4 linked regions of the Homo sapiens genome follow. The protein of the gene in region 1 interacts with the protein of each later gene in a pairwise test. Each region holds a gene or a part of one and is shown on either strand. Other genes may lie near its edges.

Region 1 (5,200 bases):
ATTTGTTTCTATTCCTCTAGAGGATGTTTTTAAGAATTAAAAAAACCAAACAAACCCATATTGGCTGCTGATCAATGAGATTGTGGGTTGGCAACCATCCTAAGAAAGAACGGAAACCCAAGGGAACAGATGTCTACATAGGACTGTATTATGCAGGCCTAGTGAAGAACAAAGAAATAAACTGTGGGCATGCTGATAAGGATCCCACATTATTTTTGGGATAGGAGAGATTTTTTAGGTGTAAAATCTTAAAGAATACAAAAAATGTCGGATCTTAAGTTTAAATCACTTTTTAAAAAAACAAAACTTTGTGACATTAAATGTCAAGATCAAATTTTTAAAGACATAGAATACAGAGAATTGCAAAATAAAAAAAAGCAGATATATGCTTGATGAGGGAAAAATGCATTAATGATCTCTCATCTAAAACACTGTTTTCCTTATTATCATAATGACTAAATTGCCTGTCCATAAAACCACTGGAATATGTATGTTACTGACATTATGCCAACAAAGTCAAAATGTACTTTATTGCAAAAATATAAAAAGTTTTAAAACTGCATATGATATTTTATACCATTTCACCAATAGGCCAAGGCCAGCACATAACTTATCAAGCTAGAAAACTTTAAAACAAAAATGATTAAAATTTTACTGTGTTTAATGAGTTATAAAAAAAAGTGATGCCATGCTGTGTAGCATGTTTAATTGCCAAGTGCCCTCTTACATGGGGATAGTCACTAATATGATTATCAGTCTGAATAAGTAAAACACATATAGCCTATGATAACATCCTTTAATTATCTTCTTAAACACAGATACTTTCTATATATTACAATCATTTTAATAAACCTTTCAGTCATAATTTTGTGGAGTACAAAGTCATTTTATCAGTATGTTGATTTTTTTATGAACTACTCTTTAGAAAGTGATGTTAAAGCCTATTGACTATTAAATCACTACTGTTTATTGATACGTTGTAAATGTAAAAAAAGGAAAAAACCTGAAATCACAGAAAATGCTTGGCATCTACACAAACACATTCTCAGTGGACTAACCACTACTGTGTAATTTTGTCACTACAGGTCTTGCTCCATACTTTTGCTTCATGCAGTGGGTTCAACAATATCCATGTTCGTTCCAAACAGGGCAACTAACTGTTCTTCATAGGTAGCGATGTTCCTTTTCATAATTTCCATGCAAGGTCCCAGAAGCCTTTCAAATGCTTGCACATCCATTGCTGAGAAAAGAGAAGATTTTTTTTTAAATAACATTCTTTGCAAATCTGCAGAATTTCTAAGTCATTTACAATACCGACTCCATATATATCAATAGTGCAATGATATTTTAGGTAAATACTATAAAATACAAGAAAAAGCATAATGATAAAAATGTTCCACTTGAAAAAGGAAGCAGCCAGGGCCACGCTCTTGGACCACACTCTGCAGTCCCTCGGCAATATGATGAGCAATGCTAAGTTGGTGGGAGGTTCCTGGTCCAAGCTGAGAAAAGAATGAGGGACTATCATGGAAAGACCTTAGAATTTTAAAAAATAAATGTGCTGTCTCCACCTTAGCAATGTGAACTCCTCAAGGGTGGCACAAGAGTGTTTTCTATCCTGTGTTCCCTTCTCAGGGTTTAAAATGCCATGTTGTGAAGGCCAAGTGTTAACCTTTTGTAAGTTTTGCTGCCATACTATGTCTATGCAATCCAAAAATGGCAGCTGACATAATGCTTTTGTTTACTTCTATAAGTACATGCTAGAAATCACTTTGCTTGCCTGTCTCCTGGATTTTAAAACTGGATTTATAATATATAAATAGAAAATATGATCATACTCTATACATAAAAGTACAAATTAAAATAGATCTTCTTTGCCTTTTACACTAAAGATAAAAAGATAAAAAAGGCAATGTTTACAAGAATAGGGTGAATGGGCATTATGGCACTGCTAGTAGTGTACAAATACAAGTAATCTGGCAATATGTGTCAAAAGTTAATTTTTTAAAAACCCACTCCTGAAAACCATTTCTAAGGAAAACTCCTATAATACAGAAAAGTCTTCTATGCACAAAAAATTGCTCCCCACAAAAAAGTTGGAGCCAAAACCTTCGAAGTATTTACCACTAAGGAATGATTAATTTATCGTGTATATATTTACCTAAAAGAATTTTAAAATTTGGTGTAATAAAATAAGAACATTCCTAAGCGATAATGAACTTTAAAAGTTGTTTGGAAAACTGTTTAACAACTGGAAGCCCACACAAATAAAAAGGACAAGAAGGAATTATAATAGCAGAAATCACTGAGTGGCGGTGTTATGTTTTTTCTACATTTTCTGTATTTCTCAGGTTTTCTTTGATGTGAGTATAATAATCTATTATTGAAAAAAAATTAACAGACTTTCACTCACTCACCTTTACTCTTTCTAATAGACTTTCACTCACTCACCTTTACTGTAATAGACTTTCACTCACTCACCTTTACTATTTCTAATAGACTTTCACTCACTCACCTTTACTCTTTCTAATAGCCCTACTTAGGGAAATTACCTGCCAGTTTCTAATCGTCTTCTCTTCCATCCAAATTTAACACTTGATTAATATTATACTTATTTAAACCCTTTTAAAGAATGACTTCTCTAAGAAGTTAATTCTAAGGATCCTTGCAAATCTTAAAAACATTAAGTTTATGCTATTGAATTATGGATGAAAAGCACAGAGAGGGTAATAACTGTGAGATCAATTTTCTTAAAATACCCTCCATATTGCCACCTTCTAAACTGTATTTTCTTATCAAAGTAAGTGATTTCTCAGATATATAATCTCAGATATATACAGATGCCTGCACCTGAAGATGACATTTCTGCCAAGCTACTCTGGTAAAATAGTAATAACAACTGAACAGCAAAGAACATTTGACTGTGCTTTGACAAACCTGAACCTTTGTGTCCCAATACTGTAATGAGTAAGGATTCTCACAACATCTCAGCATTCCCCGCAGATCTTAATAACGGACTTTATAAAAATAGTACTTTAGCCTTCTCTTTTGAGGAACATAGCACATGTTGCTTATTTGAGAGATTCCATATAAAACGTGGTACTTGGAACTCTTATTTTAATGACTAATATGGGATGTTATTTCATATATACACAAGAAGAGCAAAATGTATCTGGATGTAAAAATTTCGAAGAAAAAATGGCTTCCACAAATTGATTTTATAAGGCAATGAGTCCTAATCTTGTTACCTTTTGTGGGGACCACAAAACCTGTGAACCCAATAAAATGATTCACTCAACATGAATACATAAAATGCAGACATAAGTTCAACCAGCAGAAGCACGCCCACTGTTGCAATCCCTACCTAAACATTTGACAGTCCCAATGGCGTGGGCAGAAGCTGCTCGAGGTTTGTTAGTTACCAGGGCAAGCTCTCCAAAGTACTGTCCCCGCGAGCATCGAGCGATTTCTACTGCACCATTCTCTTCCACTTCTGATTTACCCTGACAAGGCAATTAAAAAGATGAGCTTTTCCTCAGCTTATGAAAAATAAAATTAACCTCAGTCTAAACATCAAAAAGTAGATCTGTTGTGTTCCTTGCTAACAGTATGTGGGTTCTGAGGACTTAGAATGCTTACCTTTCTTTTCATAGTAATTTTCACTTCTCCAGATTCTACAATGAAAAAAGAATCAGCCGAATCTCCCTATTGGAATCAATAACAAAAACAGACGGTGAAAATGCAAATTAATTGACAACAATCTTGTTACCTTTCATATCCCTAAAATTGATCCAACCCCAAAGTACACATATTCACCTGAAAAGTGAAATCCTAAGGGAACAAGCTGTCTCGGTTTCTAAATCAAGAGGTTTTTTTTTTTTTTGAGACGGAGTCTCACTCTGTTGCCCAGACTGGAATGCAGTGGCGCGATCTCGGCTCACTACAAGCTCCACCTCCCGGGTTCACACCATTCTCCTGCCTCAGCCTCCTGGGTGGCTGGGACTACAGGCGTCTGCCACCACGCCCGGCTAATTTATTTGTATTTTTAGTAGAGACGGGGTTTCAACGTGTTAGCCAGGATGGTCTTGATCTCCTGACCTCGAGATCTGCCTGCGTCGGCCTCCCAAAGTGCTGGGATTACAGGCGTGAGCCACCGAGCCCGGCCCTAAATGAAGAGGTTTTGATGGACAATTATGTAGTAATGATTTCATTTGTAAAATTATTTGAAATAATACTTTCTTTTTCCCCCCCAAGATGGAGTCTCGCTCTGTCACCCAGGCTGGAGTGCAGTGGTGCAATCTCAGCTCACTGCAGCCTCCACCTCCTGGATTCAGGCGACTCTCCCACCTCACCCTCCCAAGTAGCTGGGATTACAGGCATGTGCTACCACACCCAGCTAATTTTTTTTTCCTTTTTTTAAAATTTTACTTTAAATCAGGGATACATGTGGAGAACATGCAGGTTTGTTACACAGGTATACATGTGCCATGGAGGTTTGCTATACCTATCAACCTGTCTGGTTTTAAGCCCCGCATGCATTAGGTATCTGTCCTAATACTCTCCCTACCTTCACTCCCCACCCCCTGACAGGCCCCGGTGTGTGATGTTCCCCTCCCTGTGTCCATGTGTTCTTATTGTTCAACTCCCACTTATGAGTGAGAACATTCGGTGTTTAGTTTTCTACTCCTGTGTTAGTCTGCTGAGAATGATGGCTTCCAGCTTCATCCATGTCCTGCAAAGGACATTATCTCATTCTTTTTTATGGCTGCATAGTACTCCATGGTATATATGTACCACGTTTTCTTTATCCAGTCTATCACTGATGGGCATTTGGGTTGGTTCCATGTCTTTGTTATTGTAAATAGTGCTGCAATAAACATATGTGTGCATGTGTCTTTATAGCAGAATGATTTATATTCCTTTGGGTATATACCCAGTAATGGGTTTTCTGGGTCAAATGGTATTTCTGCCATTAAAAAGTGGGCAAAGGATATGAACGGACACTTCTCAAAAGAATCAAAAGAAGATATTTATGCAGCCAAAAAAAAAATGAAAAAAAGATCATTACTGATCATTAGAGAAATGCAAATCAAAACCATAATGAGAAACCATCTCACGCCAGTCAGAATGGCAATTATTAAAAAGTCAAGCAACGATAGATGCTGGTGAGGTTGTGGAGAAATAGGAATGCTTTTGCACT
Region 2 (5,200 bases), on another chromosome or scaffold:
CTTAGTAGGAAAAACAAATGTTGGCTGTTGAAAGGCTTCTTACCCTAGCCCTAGCTGAATTACAGTAAGTAAAAATCCCATTTTTACTAATAATGAAGTTTTAATTACATAGAGTCAATAATCACAACAGTAATATGAAATAGGATAACAGTAATTTGAAGAGAGAATCTATAATCAATAATACTCCATGGATAAATAATTGAGAACTGTAAAAATTAAGACTCAATTTGCTTTTTTGTCAATCTGAAGGCTACAACTAGAATATAACAATATCTTGGTCAAGTGTGGTGGCTCACACCTGTAATCCCAGCACTTTAGGAGGCCAAGGTGGAAGGATTGCTGGAGCCCAGGAATTCAAGATCAGCCTGAGCAATGCAGCAAGACCTCATCTCAAGAAAACCAAAAAAAATTTTTTGTTGTTAAAAAAATATATATATACATATATATATATATATATATACACACACACACAATTTCTTATTAGGTCTCTATGGTGCTTTGGCATTCAAGTCAAAAAAACTGGTCCAGACATCTCAGGATTTCACTGGTCTGTCTGGCTGCACAGCTTGCTGTGGCCTAGAAAATAAATTTCTTCCTTGCAATTGTTGTGGACTTTTCCTACCATTTTGAATGAAGTCACTCACAGCAGAGCCACAGCCACTGTCGGTAGTTTATCAGACTGCTGATATTTCAGGGAGACGAACAAAAAGTTAATGCATTATTGAGACTTAAAATAGCAAATAAATGCAGATTATTTTTAAAAACCCAAAAAGCCAAAAAAAAAAAAAAAAAAAACCCTCCCTTCTAGCTATTTCAACTTACCCAGGCTGTTCCCTCATTCTATAAAACTAAGATAACTACCAACCTTGACAGATTATCATAATATTAAACAGAGAACACATACAAGAAGCACTGGGTCAATGTCTAGCACATAACAGATGATCACAAATTTTTTTAGTTTCCTTTATGTTCTTGATTCTAACTGAAAAAGGAATGAGCTGAATATGTTCTTACAAGACATATTCCTAAAGTAGGTGTCTGTTTTTTGGTTTTGCTTAAGCCATTACAAGAAAAGTTTCTATCAATGTTCTAAAATAAGTGTTTTTGTTACCACAAAGACACCACTTTTAGTTGGTGTGCACACCATTGCCATGTGACTCTCTCCGTATCTGTCCGCATAGGCAGACTAACTGAAGCTCCCTAGCTGAGACACTTCGGCCAAGATACCCCAGTGACCATAGGGATGGAGCAAGGCACAGACTATAGTAGAGCTGAGAGACCCAACAAGAGACAGAAAGACATGGAAAAGGAGACAGAGGGAGGAATGGGACTGTGGTAGGGAAGAAAGAGAGGGGAGGAAGAGAGGGCGACAAAGCTAGGGACCAAGATGAGGAGAGTGAACATGGATGCAAGCATAGAGTGAGCCTGAGTAAGCAAGACAATGACAGAGAGTGGGTGAGCAAGTCAGAAACAAGCAAGGAGGCAAAGCAGCAAGCGGGCACAAGGACATGAGCCTGGACAGGAGAGTGAATGCACGCATGTGTGAGGGCAGGCGGGAAGAAGGAGCTGAGTCTAGATGCTGAGGAGAGGCTTCCTAAACAAGAGAGCAGGGTTCGTGGAGAGAAGCTGAAAGAGGCTAAATGGTACTAGGACACTGCATTAAGGTAGTTCAAACTTGATCAAAACCTATCTGCTTCTCATTATTTTAAAAAGTCTTAGGCCTACCTGAATTATCTCTGATTGTTCAGCCAGAGCCTTCCTTTGTGCCTCCAGTGAAGATACCTGTTGCTGATAAATCAAGCGTTGCTTCTCCCAGTCCAGCGATTTCTGACGGAATTCCTGAGGAGGCAATTAGAGTACTTAATTTCTGAGTGCTTCTCCTCACTGTCACTACTTCCCAGACTCCCTTTAACTTTAATTTCTCCCCATGTCCCTGGGTACGCTTGCACCTTTCTCCACAGCGGGAGCCCCATTACTCACTCAGCTAACAGAGCTGGAGAGTAATACTAACTTCCTCACATACTGTGCCTCTGGATATCTGTCTTTCTAAATTTAACACCCTGATGGTGAGGAGTATGACACGCAGATGTTAAGCACTGGATTCAGATGTTTTTCACTGATTTGCTGCCACCTAAGGGTTGTTATAATTTTCTAGTGAATTTTCAGAAAACTGATGCTAAGATAACTAAAATTTTAAAGTATGATTACAGATATCCCTCGCTATCCAAATTCTTGATATCCAGACCCAGGAATTGAACAGATTAAATTTTCAGATAAGTCCCTTGGTAACCCAAATCTTACTTCCCAGTATCTAAAACTAAGGAACCAAGTAGATTCAGATAACACAATATCCTTTGATATCCAAATTTGTATTATCTCAACAGAGGAACTGCAAAAGTTTGAATAACAAAGAAAATCTGTACCAAATTTTAACAAATATTTGTAACCCAAAGCCAAACAGTTCAAAATTAATGATGGATCAATAGTAACATCAAATTGCATGATCAAGAAAGTGATTTCAATATTTATGAAAATGGGGCAAATCAAAGGGAAAGGAAACTCAATCTTTCTATCACTGTCTTCCAGGACCCTCAACTCCAGAAGTCTCAGGCTCCTTAAGATAAGTGTTGTTAACCAAATTTCTGATATTCATTCATTCATTCAATCATTCTACTATATATGCCAGGTACTGCTTTAGGAGTCAGGGATACAATACTTAACAAAACAAACAAAAACCCTAGTCCTACTCAACTGGGGGCAACAGATGACACATTTCTTGTATGGTATAGCAGATGGTAATACACGTTTTGGAGAAAACAGAGCATGAAGTCTTCACAGTTGGGGTTGTAATTTTTAAAAGGGATGGCCAGACTGAGTGAAAAACATTTAAGTAAACACCTAGGGAGATGAGGGTGAAGTTACAATATTCTGGGTGGAAAGAATAGCCTTGAAATAAGAGCATCCTGGTGTGTTTAAGGGTGAGAAAGGAAATTGGTGTGGCTGGAATAAAGTGAATGAAAGGGAAAGTAGGAGAAGACAAGGTAAGAGAGATAACTGGGAATGAGACCACGTAGGCCATTAGGATAACAGATTTTTAAGAGAAGCTGCTGGAAGGTTTTTGTATAGGAAGTGATATAATTTGACTTACATTACAGCAGAATCATTCTGGCTATCATGCTGAGAAAAGAGAAGTCTAGGATGACTCCGAGGTTTTAGGTTGAGCAAATTGAGTTGTTATCAACTAAAACATGAATCAGTGTTGGGGAGATGAGGAAGAGAAAGACAGGACCTTTAGCTTGGACATGTTAAGTTTGACACATTTTAGACATCATAGTGGAGATAGGAAACAGGCAGTTGAAAGTTATTCTGTCATGAAGAGGCGAGGTCTTGGCTAGATATATAAATTTAGGAATTGTCAGCATATACACAGTGTTAAAGCTATGAAATTCAATGGGATCAATAGGGGAGTGAGCGTAGATAGGAAAAAAAAAAAGGAAAGGAAAGGTCCAATGACATGACCCTAGGTGGTTAAGGAATAATGGAGACTGAGGAGTGATGAACAAGGAAAAAATGAGAGAAATGTGGTTTTTCTCAAGCCAAGTCAAGAAAGTGGTTAAGGAGTTGGGAGAGACCAGCTCTCCTACAAAGCTGTAGGTAGGATGAGGAAGATAAGGACCAGCCCACAGGCTTTGGGAATGTGGAAGTCACTGGTGACCTCTATGTGAACAGCTTCTGCAGTGTGAGGGGACAAAAGCCTTATTGAGTGGGTACAAGAACAATGAGACAAGAGGAACTGGAGACAAGTATAGATGACTGAAGTAATTTTTTAGTTATAAAATGGAAGAAATAAAATGGGGCAGAGGAGGAAGAGACGGGTCAAGAGAGGATATTTAAGAGGAGGGAAATTTGGATGCTGGTAAAAAATATCCAGTAGAGAAAAAAAATTAAGGGTGCAGAAAAGAGAAGGTGAACTGCTAAGGTAATGCCTTGGGTAGAAAAGGGGGAGGGCATGCGTAGTTCCTCCAGGAAGGAAGGCAGGGTACATGGGCACAGATGCAGATAGGTGGGTGGACACAAGAGTTGGAAGTCTATAAACAGAAAGGAAGATATAACCCAAAGGTGAGGATGTGGGGAAAGGTGTTGAGAGTTTGAGGAGAAAAGCAGAAGTCTGAAATACTCATTGTGGAAAGTAGGAGATGAGAGGAAATACAGTATGATTCCAGGTAGCATTAGGACCCATTTGAGGTTAGTGACCATGAATTTAAAGTGAGAACAGACAGTATGATTAGGTTTTTCTCTAGCCACGTTCAGCGATACATGACAGGTAGAGAGTGGGCAGAAAGGTGGACTTAAGCAGAACTGTGATTCTGCCAAGCAAATATGAGGAAGCAAGAGAGGAGCACAGGAGATGAAGGGGAAAGTAAAAAATGTAATGACAGAATTTAAAAGCTGGCTAAGGACCGATAAGTGAGAACACCAAGTAGATAATGGAGCAGTAAAAAGGTGGCAGAATTTAATCATTTTAAGGGATGGTTAATGATTACTGAGAGTCAAAGGACTAGAGAGAGTTAGCTGAAAAGATAGGGATTGGTAGTCTGATAATTGAATGCTTGAAAATGAGATTCTAGAGGGGTGGCATATATTGGTAATGACAAGAGCTAAGGAATGGCAGTGGGAATAAGTAGATGAGACACAAAGATAATCAAACTATCTATGGAGGAAAGAAAGCCAAGAAACTGTAAGGTCAGAGTATTATAAGCATCATCTCTCCAGATCCTAAGATCCTCAAAGTTATGATAAGAGTAATGTCAGAGAGAATTGACAGTGAGCTGGGTGCTGAAATCAATGAGCCAAGGAAATAACCCAGAGGTCAGACGATGACTATTTTGGTTGTTATGTTCATTGGCTGGCAGTATAGGCTGGTAACATGAAAATCAAAGATGGGGTTTTTGAGGTAGAAAGAAAAGAGAATAGTCAGGAAGTGGCAATGAGAAGCAAGAAGGATATAGGGTTTGGGGGGAAAAGGTATTGCCGAAAAGGGTGGAAGGGAAGCAGTAGCTGCAGTCTTCTGATTCTAAGCTCTTCAAATGTAAAAAAATATTGAGATATAAAGGAATATTAAACACAGAAATTATAATTTTAAGTAATAATAATATACTGGCATTTGTGGGTGACAGGTCACCCAGAGTACAAACTTGTA
Region 3 (5,200 bases), on another chromosome or scaffold:
GCTCACACCTGTAATCCCAACACTTTGGGAGTCCAATGTGGGTGGATCACCTGAGGTCAGGAGTTCGAGACCAGCCTGGCCAAAATGGTGAAACCCCATCTCTACTAAAAATTAAAAATAAAAAATAAATTGGCCTGGCATGGTGGCAGGTGCCTATAATTCCAGCTACTCGGGAGGCTGAGGCAAGAGAATCACTTGAACCCAGGAGGTGGAGGTTGTAGTAGGCCGAGATCGCACCATTGCACTCCAGCCTGGGTGACAAGAGTGAAACTCTGTCTCAAAAAAAAAAAAAAGAAGGGCCGGGCGCGATGGCTCACGCCTGTAATCCCAGCACTTTGGGAGGCCGAGGCAGGCGGATCACAAGGTCAGAAGATCGAGACCATCCTGGCTAACATGGTGAAACCCTGTCTCTACTAAAAATACAAAATATTAGCCAGCACGGTGGCACACGCCTGTAGTCCCAGCTACTCGGGAGGCTGAGATAGGAGAATCACTTGAACCTAGGAGGCGGAGGGTGCAGTGAGCCAAGATCACGCCACTGCACTCCAGCCTGGGCGACAGAGTGAGACTCCGTCTCAAAAAAAAAAAAAAAAAAAAAAAAAAAGAAATGCCAGGCATGCTGCATTAGTGGGGCTGGGAACAGGGCGATTTTACATCATGAGTTAATATAACATGTTTAGCTTTTCAGTCATTTACTTTTTAATTGTCTCTGTCCTCACAACAGCCCTACGAAATAGGTAAGACAAATCCTTTGACCTGGCTCTTCATCTGTGAAGAAATACGGTAATGCAATAATAAATCTGCTCATGTATTCAACATAGAGTTATTGAGCATCTGTGTACCTGACATTGCTAGGGGCTGGGAAGAGAGCAGTCAAGAGAAATCTGCCCTCATGGACCATATGGTCTGGGGGTGGAAGACAGGCAGTAGGACAAGTAAATAGACTCTAGTAGGCAGAAAGAAGTGCGAAGGGAAAAATGAATCAGAGAAGTGGAGAGGGTTGTGATTTTAGATGAAGTGGCCAAGAAAAGCCTCAATGAGCAGGTGATAGTTTTCAACAAAGATCTGAAGGGAGGTAAAGCAGTGAGCCATGGGTATACATCTTAGGGGAGAGGGTTCCAGGCAGAGGGAACAGCAAGAGCAAGGGTCCTGACAGGGGAACATGCCTGGCAGTCGAGGAACGGCAAGGAGGCAAGTGTGGCCGAGGGAAGAAGGTGAGAGGGGGGAAGGAGTGATGGGAGCTGAACCATAAATCAGGAGGGGAAAGGGAACTCAGATCATATTGGGCCTTGTAGACCATTGTCAGGACTTACTTTTGCCTTTTACTCAGAATGACCAGTGGGATTTGCAAGGGAAATTTTTCCTACTTGCTATGTGTTCCATTCTAGTTTGATTCAGGAACCCTGAGTGCAGTAGGCAGGGGCCTTTGCCCAACCCCAAATGGAGAAGTGCTCCACAGCAGGAAGGCTCAAGAATAACTTGCACCATTCATCTTCACTATGCTCAAGATACCCCTCCTAATGAGAACGGTGAGTGGCGTCCGCTGGAGCATAGAAGGCGTGGAGCCAGAAATCCCTGACTTTTCCTCCTTCACACCTGACCAGGCCTTCCTAAGGCCTGGGAAACTGCCCTGAGGGCTGTAGGCTTTGAGGTGCTGGCCTGGGGAACAGAGAGAGCTGGAACTTTTCCCAGGGGTAGGGGAGTTCGCCTCCACCAATTTCAACTGGTCTCTGTTCCACAGAAGCACAATGAGAAGGATTTCAAGCCTTTTTTTTTTTTGAGACAGGGTCTCACTCTGTCACCCAGGCTGAGTGCAGTGGCACAATCACAGCTTACTGCAGCCTCGACCTCCTGGGCTCAAGTGATCCTCCCACCTCAGCCTCCTGAGTAGCTGGAACTATACGTGCATACCACCACGCCCGGCTAATTATTATTATTATTTTTTGAGACGGAGTCTTGCTCTGTCGCCCAGGATTGAGAATGCAGTGGTGTAATCTCAGCTCACTGCAACCTCTGCCTCCTGGGTTCAAGCGATTCTTCTGCCTCAGCCTCCCGAGTAGCTGGGATTACAGGCGCCCAGCACCACGCCTGGCTAATTTTTGTATTTTTAATAGAGACGGGGTTTCACCATATTGGCCAGGCTGGACTTGAACTCCTGACCTTGTGATCTGCCCACTTCGGCCTCCCAAAGTGCTGGGCTTACAGGCGTGAGCCACTATGCCTGGCCTAATTTTTTAGTTTTATAGAGATGGGGTCCCACTATGTTGCCCAGGCTGTCTCAAACTCTTAGGCTCAAATGATTGATTCTCCCGTCTTGGTATTTCAAAGTGCTGGGATTACAGATGTGAACCACTGCGCCTGGCCCAAGCCATTCTCCTTTATTCACTCACCAGTTATGCAAAGTAATCCAGGGCCTTCTCAGCAAAGCTGCCACACGAAGAAGTCAGAGTCAGACACAGGCAGAAGAACAAAGGAATTCATGGGATTGTACATCTTACTATGCAGGCAATATATTCCAAAGCCAAATCAAAAAGTCTTTTGATCCATCTGCATCCCCTCTGTTAACAGGAGCATTCTAAAGTTGGTGGTGGAGGCTGGGTGCAATGGCTCACACCTGTAATCCCAGCACTTTGGGAGGCCAAGGCAGGAGGATCCCTTGAGGCCAGGAGTTCGAGGCCAACCTGAGCAACATAGCACGACCCTGTCTCTACAAAAAAAAATTAAAAATTAGCCAGGTGTGGTGACACGTGCCTGTCTACTTGGAAGGCTGAGGTGGGAAGATCGCTTGAGCCCAGGAGTTCAAAGCTGCAGGGAGCTAGGATCGAGCCCCTGCACTGCAGCCTCGGTGACAGAGTGGGACCCTGTCTCTAAAAAAAATAAACAAAATAATGGTGGTGGAGAACTCCTATTTTGGAGGAGCATCTCCCTCCTTAGGCCACTAGGCCCCCATTTAATGCACCAGCATGGACAAATTGCTTAAGTAGGAAGAGCAGATTTTCCCAGGGAAATGTAAGGTTAGAATGATACAGACACAGGGAAAATGATTGTGATTGTGCATTTCACCTTCAAAGACTATCCCACCTTGATTTTGGAACTGAGATGGAGATGATGTTTACTTATTCTAGTCAGCCCCCTTTGATACCATCTCCTAGATTTTCCAGACTTCAAACTTTTGATCTGCTGAGAGTCTCTTTATTGTTCTTCACACCGGTGTACCATGCTGGAGTGGTCGGCCTAACTTACCGAAAAATATTCGTCAATTTGTTTAAGACCCTTTTCCACAGTGAATTCACCGTGAGTCATCCACTTGATGTTTTTCAAAGGGTTTCGCTCCTCTGCAAAAAAAAGGTGTGAGTTCGTTAGTTGCCAGGTAGTGTGGTGCTATATTTAGACTATATAGACAATTATTTAGGCATCCAAACAAACAGGATCACTACCTTCCACAATCTTAACAGCATAATTGATGACATCCTCAACCAGAGCTAGAGCTACTTGAGTCAATTCATCCTCGTAGTTCTTGTCTTGTGTATTCGGCATTGTTTGGCTTGCGGCTTTGTTATCCTCATCCATTGCTTTCTGGCTTGTTGAATTTTGAGTCTCACTCATTTTCTTTTTCCTGGGGAAAAAAAGAAGTTACTGTGTGCCTGTGTGTGTACACACATGTGAACGCACTCATATAAGTACAGATCATCTCTTGAAGAATCACAAGAGACAGGAAGCAGTTATTGCCTCTAGGGAGGGGATTAGGGGTTTAAGGGTAGGAGTCAGACCTGTGCCTGGCTGCTGCTATCTACTTTTCCTGAAAACCAAGGATTCTCACATTCTCAAAATCATAATGAGGCCCGGCGCGGTGGCTCACGCCTGTAATCCCAGCCCTTTGAGAGCCCGAGGCGGGCGGATCACCTGAGGTCAGGAGTTCAAGACCAGCCTGACCAACATGGTGAAACCCCGTCTCTACTAAAAATGCAAAATTTGCCGGGTGTGGTGGCGGGCGCCTGTAATCCCAGCTACTTGGGAGGCTGAGGCAGGACAATTGCTTGAACCTGGGAGGTGGAGGTTGCAGTGAGCCAAGATCGCGCCATTGCACTCCAGCCTGGGCAACAAGAGCAAAACTCCATCTCAAAAACAAAACAAAAAACAAAAAAAACACCATAATGACTTAAATCAAAATGTAGTAGAAAAAAAGTAGCACTTCTTTGGAGTGCCTAGCAATATTGATTCCAAGTTGAATCTTTGATAAGAAACCCAATCCCTGCTAGGAGCAACTGAGGGCACCTGGCTCTTTTAAAATGATGTTAAAATGAAGTGGGTGTGGTGGCATGTGCCTGTAATCTCAGCTATTCAGGAGGCTGAAGCAGGGGGACAGTTTGAGGCTATGAGTTTGAAACCAGCCTGGGCAACATAGTGAGATCTCCCCACTCCCCAACCTGTCTTAACTTTTAAAAAGAAATATAAAGGCCCGGCGCGGTGGCTCACGCCTGTAATCCCAGCACTTTGGGAGCCTGAGGCAGGCATATCACGAGGTCAGGAGTTGAAGACCACTCTGGCCAACATGGTGAAACCTCGTCTCTACTAAAAATACAAAAATTAGCTGGGCATGGTGGCTCATGCCTGTAATCCCAGCTACACAGGAGGCTGAGGCAGGAGAATTGCTTGAACCGGGACCCAGGAGGCAGAGGTTGCTGTGAGCCGAGATCGCACCACTGCACTCCAGCCTTCCAGCCTGGGCTACAGAGGGAGACTACATCTCAAAAAAAAAAAAAAAGTATAAAGACAGTGTTTTGTTTTTTGTTTGTTTGTTTGTTTGTTTGAGTCAGAGTTTTGTTCTTGTTGCCCAGGCTGGAGAGCAATGGCGCTATCTCGGCTCACCGCAACCTCCGCCTCCCGGGAGAATCCAGGTTCAAGTGATTCTCCTGCTTCAGCCTCCCGAGTAGCTGGGATTGGAGGCATGCGCCACCACGCCCGGCTAATTTTGTATTTTCAGTAGAGATGGGGTTTCTCCAAGTTGGCCAGGCTGGTCTCGAACTCTTGACCTCAGGTGATCCACCCGCCTCGGCCTCCCAAAGTGCTGGGATTACAGGCGTGAGCCAGCGCGCCGGCTAAGATAGTGTTTTTTTTTTTTTTGAGACAAAGTTTCGTTCTGTCGCCCAGGCTGGAGTGCAATGGCACAATCTTGGCTCACTGCAACCTCCGCCTCCCG
Region 4 (5,200 bases), on another chromosome or scaffold:
AAGAAATGCTGAGTCAGGTCCACAAAAAACTGTAGATAGCAGAATTATCAGACAAATATACATTTAATAAAACTAAATAAATAAAAGATGGGATCAAAAGTGGGAATGAAGGGTGAAAGGAATAAGAAACTACAAAAAATGATCCATAGAAATAAAAAATTCAATAACTTTTTTTCTTTGTTTGAGCTGGGGTCTTGCTGTGTTGCCCAGGTTGGTCTCAAAACTCCTGGGCTCAAGCAATCTTCTCACCTTAAGCTTCCTGAGTAGCTGGGAGTACAAGTGTGTGCCACTTCTCCCAGCTTACAGTAACTTTGCGATGAAAATAACATGCCGTCAGGTGTGGTGATTCATGCCTGTAATCCCAGCACTTTGGGAGGCCGAGGCAGGTGGGTCACTTGAGGTCAGGAGTTCAAGATCAGCCTGACCAACATGGTGAAACCCCGTCTCTACTAAAATATAAAAATTAGCCAGGAGTGGTGGCGGGCGCCTGTAATCCCAGCTCCTCGGGAGCCTGGTTGAGGGAAGGAAGGAGGGAGGGAGGGAGGAAGGAAATAACATGCTGAAAACTTGATTCAGTAGCAGATTAGACCTCATTTTAGTTCACTGAGAATGAGTGAACTAAAAGATCTGAAGAAATCACTTAGCCCTTTAAGACACAAAGAACATTTAAGATGAAAAAGAACATGAAGGCTGTCTAATCAAAATCCCAGGTGATAATTAAGAGTATATAATTTCTAAACTAATAGAGAAGAAAAAAAAACAGGTGCTCTTGTCAAAATGCTTCTAGGTCCACATTTACTGTACAACCTAGAGGAAGTTACCTAACCTTTCTAAGCCCTGGTTTTCTCATGTGTAAATAAGATAATCAGTCCGGGCGCGGTGGCTCATGCCTGTAATCCCAGCACTTTGGGAGGCCGAGGCAGGCGGATCACAAAGTCAGGAGATCGAGACCATCCTGGCGAACATGGTGAAACCCCGTCTCTACTAAAAATACAAAAAAATTAGCCGGGTGTGGTGGCAGGCGCCTGTAGTCCCAGCTATTTGGGAGGCTGAGGCAGGAGAATGGCATGAACCCGGAGGTTGCAGTGAGCCGAGACCGCGCCATTGCACTCCAGCCTGGGCGACAGAGCAAGACTCCATCTCAAAAAAAAAAAGATAATCATGCCTACTACCTGCACAAAGGTCTTGTGACTAATAAATAAAATCCAAATATACACTAAGCACTGAACTTAATAAATGTCACTTATTGGCAATTTTTAAAAATTTTTTAAAAATTTTATCTGCAAAGTGCAGTAAAATATTAATAAAATTAAGACCGAGGGAGGAAATAAGGCTATGTGGATAATGGTTTGATGTCAAAATCAGTGGAGGGGAAAAGTAGGACATTTGACCCTTCATTTACTAATTCTGATAACACACTTCTTAGAAGGTCCAGTCACTCCTGCTCCTTTTCCATACACTGATCTGACTCTACTACACTCTCCAAATTCTCCCAAATTTACAAGTAGTTAGAGGAGAAAAAAAATATTCCAATCATTTTATTCCTCATCTGAAGTTCTGCTTAGTAAATTAAAAAAAGAAAGTGAGACACATATGTACACACAAGAAAATCACATACTCACTTTTCATTAGTTTTCCTGACAATTCTTTTAGTGGAGAAGCGGGACTATTTCTACTGGCTACTGTAAGTGTAGAGGAAGATTCTTGGGTTTCCATGGAAACTTGGTGAGTTCCTGCTCTGGCCATTTCAAGACGGAGAGAATGGGCACTGTCACATTCCTGGGAAAGCAGCAAGTGATTCTGAGTGCTGTTAGTTCTATTATTCAGGTCAATTCCTTCTGAATGAGTCATAAACAACTGTGCTGAGCCAGAATCCTCCAATCTCTTATCAAGAGAATCAGTTAAAAAAGACGCTGTAGTTTCATGCTTTTTAGATGGAGAGACAGGCTCAGCCAGTGAGCTCTGCTTCACTGTGTTTAGACTGTGTGCTCTTATTCGCGACCAAGTTGTTGAATGAAAACTTTCAGCCTCTAACCAAAATTTCACCAAATGCTCCATTCGCCGAAGTTCCATGAATTGAATGAAGTAAGGGAGGACAATAGTGTCGTGCAAGACTTGTTCAAGGGTCTTAGAAAGGCTTGATTTGGTCTCTTGAGTCTGGTAGTCCAGACAAGATCTGCCTAAAAGATAGAAGCAAAAGAATTAGCAGTTCAGCAACAAATAATTTCAGATTGACAGATTAGTCAATCACTTTTAGCAACAACTGGTACCAGAGACCTTGAATAAAGTTTACTTCCTAGCAACTAAAGTAAATAAAAAAACTACAAATACTATGCTTTTGGTTTCTAAACAAAGTACAATCGTCCAAAACTTGCCTAAATTATTAAAAAGTTATTTGTTACTCAATAATTCTCATATCTCTTTTAATGGCAATTCAGACCATGTAAATTCTTTTTTTTTTTTTTTTTTTTTTTTTTGAGACTTTTCACTCTTGTTGCCTAGGCTGGAGAGCAATGGCGCGATCTCGGCTCAATGCAACCAACCTCCACCTCCCGGGTTCAAGCGATTCTCTTGACTCAGCCTCCTAAGTAGCTGGGATTACAGGCACCCGCCACCACGCTGAGCTAGTTTTTGTACTTTTAGTAGAGATTCGGTTTCACCATGTTGGTCAGGATGGTCTCAAACTCCTGACCTTCGGCAATCCACCCACCTCGGCCTCCCAAAGTGCTGGGATTGCAGGCGTGAGCCACTGCGCCCAGCCCAGACTACATAAATTCTTAAGAAAAAAAACTTATGATACTAGTTCCAAAGGGGCCAATAAAAATATTAAAAACTATACTCAACCTCATTAAAAATCCCAGAAAAGCAAATTAACATAAAATGCATTTTTGTCTGTCAAATTAGATTTTTTTCAAAAATTATTAAGCAGTAACAAGGGCACAGGAAAATAGGCAACACTCTCATTCGCTGGTCATGAGGATGTAAACTGGCAAAACCTTTTTGGAGGAGCATTCAGGAACAGATAGCAAAGTCTTAGCAAACTGCATTATTTTCAGTCCAGTAATTCCACTTGTAGGCACTTATCCTGAGGGAAAATTGTGGATATATCTACAAAGATGTTATGAACTCAGCATTATTCATTCATAGTAGGTTAAAGAGTAGCTTTGAGATCGTACCTTGAAAAATGAAACTAAACTTAATAAAAAATCATTTATCTTATATTTAACTAAATTTAAATTATAACCACAAGCTAATTGTTAGGAAAGACAAAAAATTTTTTTAAAAATTGGCTTTCATAGCATGATCATAAAGATGGGCATTCTTATAAAACTGACTGAGGGTTTCATCAATTTGTCAAAAGAGTTCTTCTTAATCCATTGATATTCAAATCATTTTTTTGAAGCACGTCGTGTCTTCATCCTCAGTCTTACTGTCAGTGTCAACTAGTTCATCTTTGTCAACATCACAAACTTGAGGAAATTCTGATCTTCTGTGAGGTTTACAATTTCTTTTAATTAAATTCTATGAGATAATGCTAGATTCACATGAAGTTCTAAGATACAATACTGAAAGGGCCAGGCATGGTCGCTCACGCCTGTAATTCCAGTACTTTAGGAGGCTGGGGCAGGCGGATCACTAGAGCCCAGGAGTTCAAGACCGGCCTGGGGAACATAGTGAAACCCCATCTCTAAAAAAATAATAATACCTAGAGATCCCTTGTACACTTTAGTTTCTCCCATGGTAACATCTTGCAAAGCTATAGTACAATATCACTCTAAGATACTGACAGTGATACAACACTCTAACTTGTTCAGATTTCCCCAGTTTTATCTATACTCATTCTTGTTTTTAGTTCTTTGTAATTTTATCACATTGAGATTTCTGCATCCACTGCCAAGATACAACTTCAACATCACAAAGATCCCTCATGTTGCACTTTTATAACTACACCCACTTACCCCTCTCACCTCCCTGTCTCTAACATCTGGCAAACACTAATCTTTTCATTTCTCTTAATTTCTCTATTTCAAGAATATTATCCAAACGGAATCATACTATATGTAGTCTTTAGGGACTGGTTTTTGTCTGACAGCATAATTCCCTTGATATTCATCCAGGTGGTTAAATGTATCAACAGTTTGTTCCTTTTTATTGCTGAATGGTATTCCATGGTATGAATGAACCAGTTCATTCACCTGCTGAAGAACATCCAGTTTTTCAATATTAAGCTGCTATGAACATTTGTGCACAGGTTTTTATTGGAAGGTAAGTTTTCATTTATCTGGGATAAATACAGAGTGCAACTGCTAGGTCATATGGTAATTGCATGTTTCACGTCATAAGAAACCACCAGCCAGGGATGACGGCTCATGCCTGTAATCCCAGCACTTTGGGAGGCCGAGGCGGGCTGATCACCTGAGGTCAGGAGTTCAAAACCAGCCTGACCAACATGGTGAAACCCCATATCTACTAAATATACAAAAATCAGCCAGGCATTATGGCAGGCACCTGTCATCCCAGCTACTCAGGAGGCTGAGGCAGGAGAATAGCTTGAACCTGGGAGGCGGAGGTTGCAGTGAGCCAAAAATTGGGCCACTGCACTCCAGCCTGTGAGACTCCGTCTACAAATAAATAAACAAACAAACAAACAAACAAACAAACTGCCTAGGCCAGGCACAGTAGCTCACGCCCGTAATCCCAGCACTTTGGGAGGCCTACGCAAGTGGATCGCTTGATTCCAGGAGTTTGAGACCAGCCTGGGAAACATGGCGAAACCCCGTCTCTACAAAAAAAAAAAAAAAAAATACAAAAATTAGCCAGGCGTGGTGGTGCATGCCTATAGTCCCAGCTACTCAGGAGACTGAGGGAGGATCACCTGAACCTGAGGAGGGTGAGGCTGCAGTGAGTTGTAATCACGCCACTGTACTCCAGCCTGCGCAACAGAGTGAGACCCTGTCTCAAAAAGAAAAAAAAAAAGAAAGAAAGAAACTGCCTGTTTTCCAGAGCATCTGCACCATTTTAAATTCTCATCAGCAATTTATGAGTGATCTAGCAAAACTTACAATTTTACTCTCTGAGCTATATGCATTTTGTCTGCTATGTATTATTGCTAAGTGTGCCCCACAAACACATTGACACTCTGGTTTGAATATACACAAAAGTAGAGAGAGATGTCAAAAGCAGGACTGATTTTATTAGA

Evidence for each region. The genes of interacting proteins can lie anywhere in the genome.
Region 2: the proteins of PRKAR2B (region 1) and CEP63 interact in a two-hybrid assay, tested with the Homo sapiens proteins (one large-scale study listed by IntAct).
Region 3: the proteins of PRKAR2B (region 1) and AKAP14 interact in binary tests that used the Homo sapiens proteins (3 or more experiments, as listed by UniProt).
Region 4: the proteins of PRKAR2B (region 1) and AKAP10 interact in a two-hybrid assay, tested with the Homo sapiens proteins (one large-scale study listed by BioGRID).

Annotation. Positions count from the first base shown.
Region 1 is NC_000007.14:107,155,489-107,160,688, reverse strand, and holds part of PRKAR2B (cAMP-dependent protein kinase type II-beta regulatory subunit), read right to left. Parts: intron 3,706-5,200; coding exon 3,640-3,705; intron 3,504-3,639; coding exon 3,365-3,503; intron 1,241-3,364; coding exon 1,107-1,240; 3' UTR 1-1,106. UniProt on the Homo sapiens protein: Regulatory subunit of the cAMP-dependent protein kinases involved in cAMP signaling in cells. Type II regulatory chains mediate membrane association by binding to anchoring proteins, including the MAP2 kinase.
Region 2 is NC_000003.12:134,533,794-134,538,993, reverse strand, and holds part of CEP63 (centrosomal protein of 63 kDa), read right to left. Parts: intron 1,840-5,200; coding exon 1,726-1,839; intron 1-1,725. UniProt on the Homo sapiens protein: Required for normal spindle assembly.
Region 3 is NC_000023.11:119,901,630-119,906,829, reverse strand, and holds part of AKAP14 (A-kinase anchor protein 14), read right to left. Parts: intron 3,617-5,200; 5' UTR 3,607-3,616; coding exon 3,438-3,606; intron 3,336-3,437; coding exon 3,244-3,335; coding exon of another isoform or gene 3,235-3,243; exon of another isoform or gene 3,171-3,234; intron 1-3,170. UniProt on the Homo sapiens protein: Binds to type II regulatory subunits of protein kinase A and anchors/targets them.
Region 4 is NC_000017.11:19,956,392-19,961,591, forward strand, and holds part of AKAP10 (A-kinase anchor protein 10, mitochondrial isoform 1 precursor), read right to left. Parts: intron 2,181-5,200; coding exon 1,623-2,180; intron 1-1,622. UniProt on the Homo sapiens protein: Differentially targeted protein that binds to type I and II regulatory subunits of protein kinase A and anchors them to the mitochondria or the plasma membrane.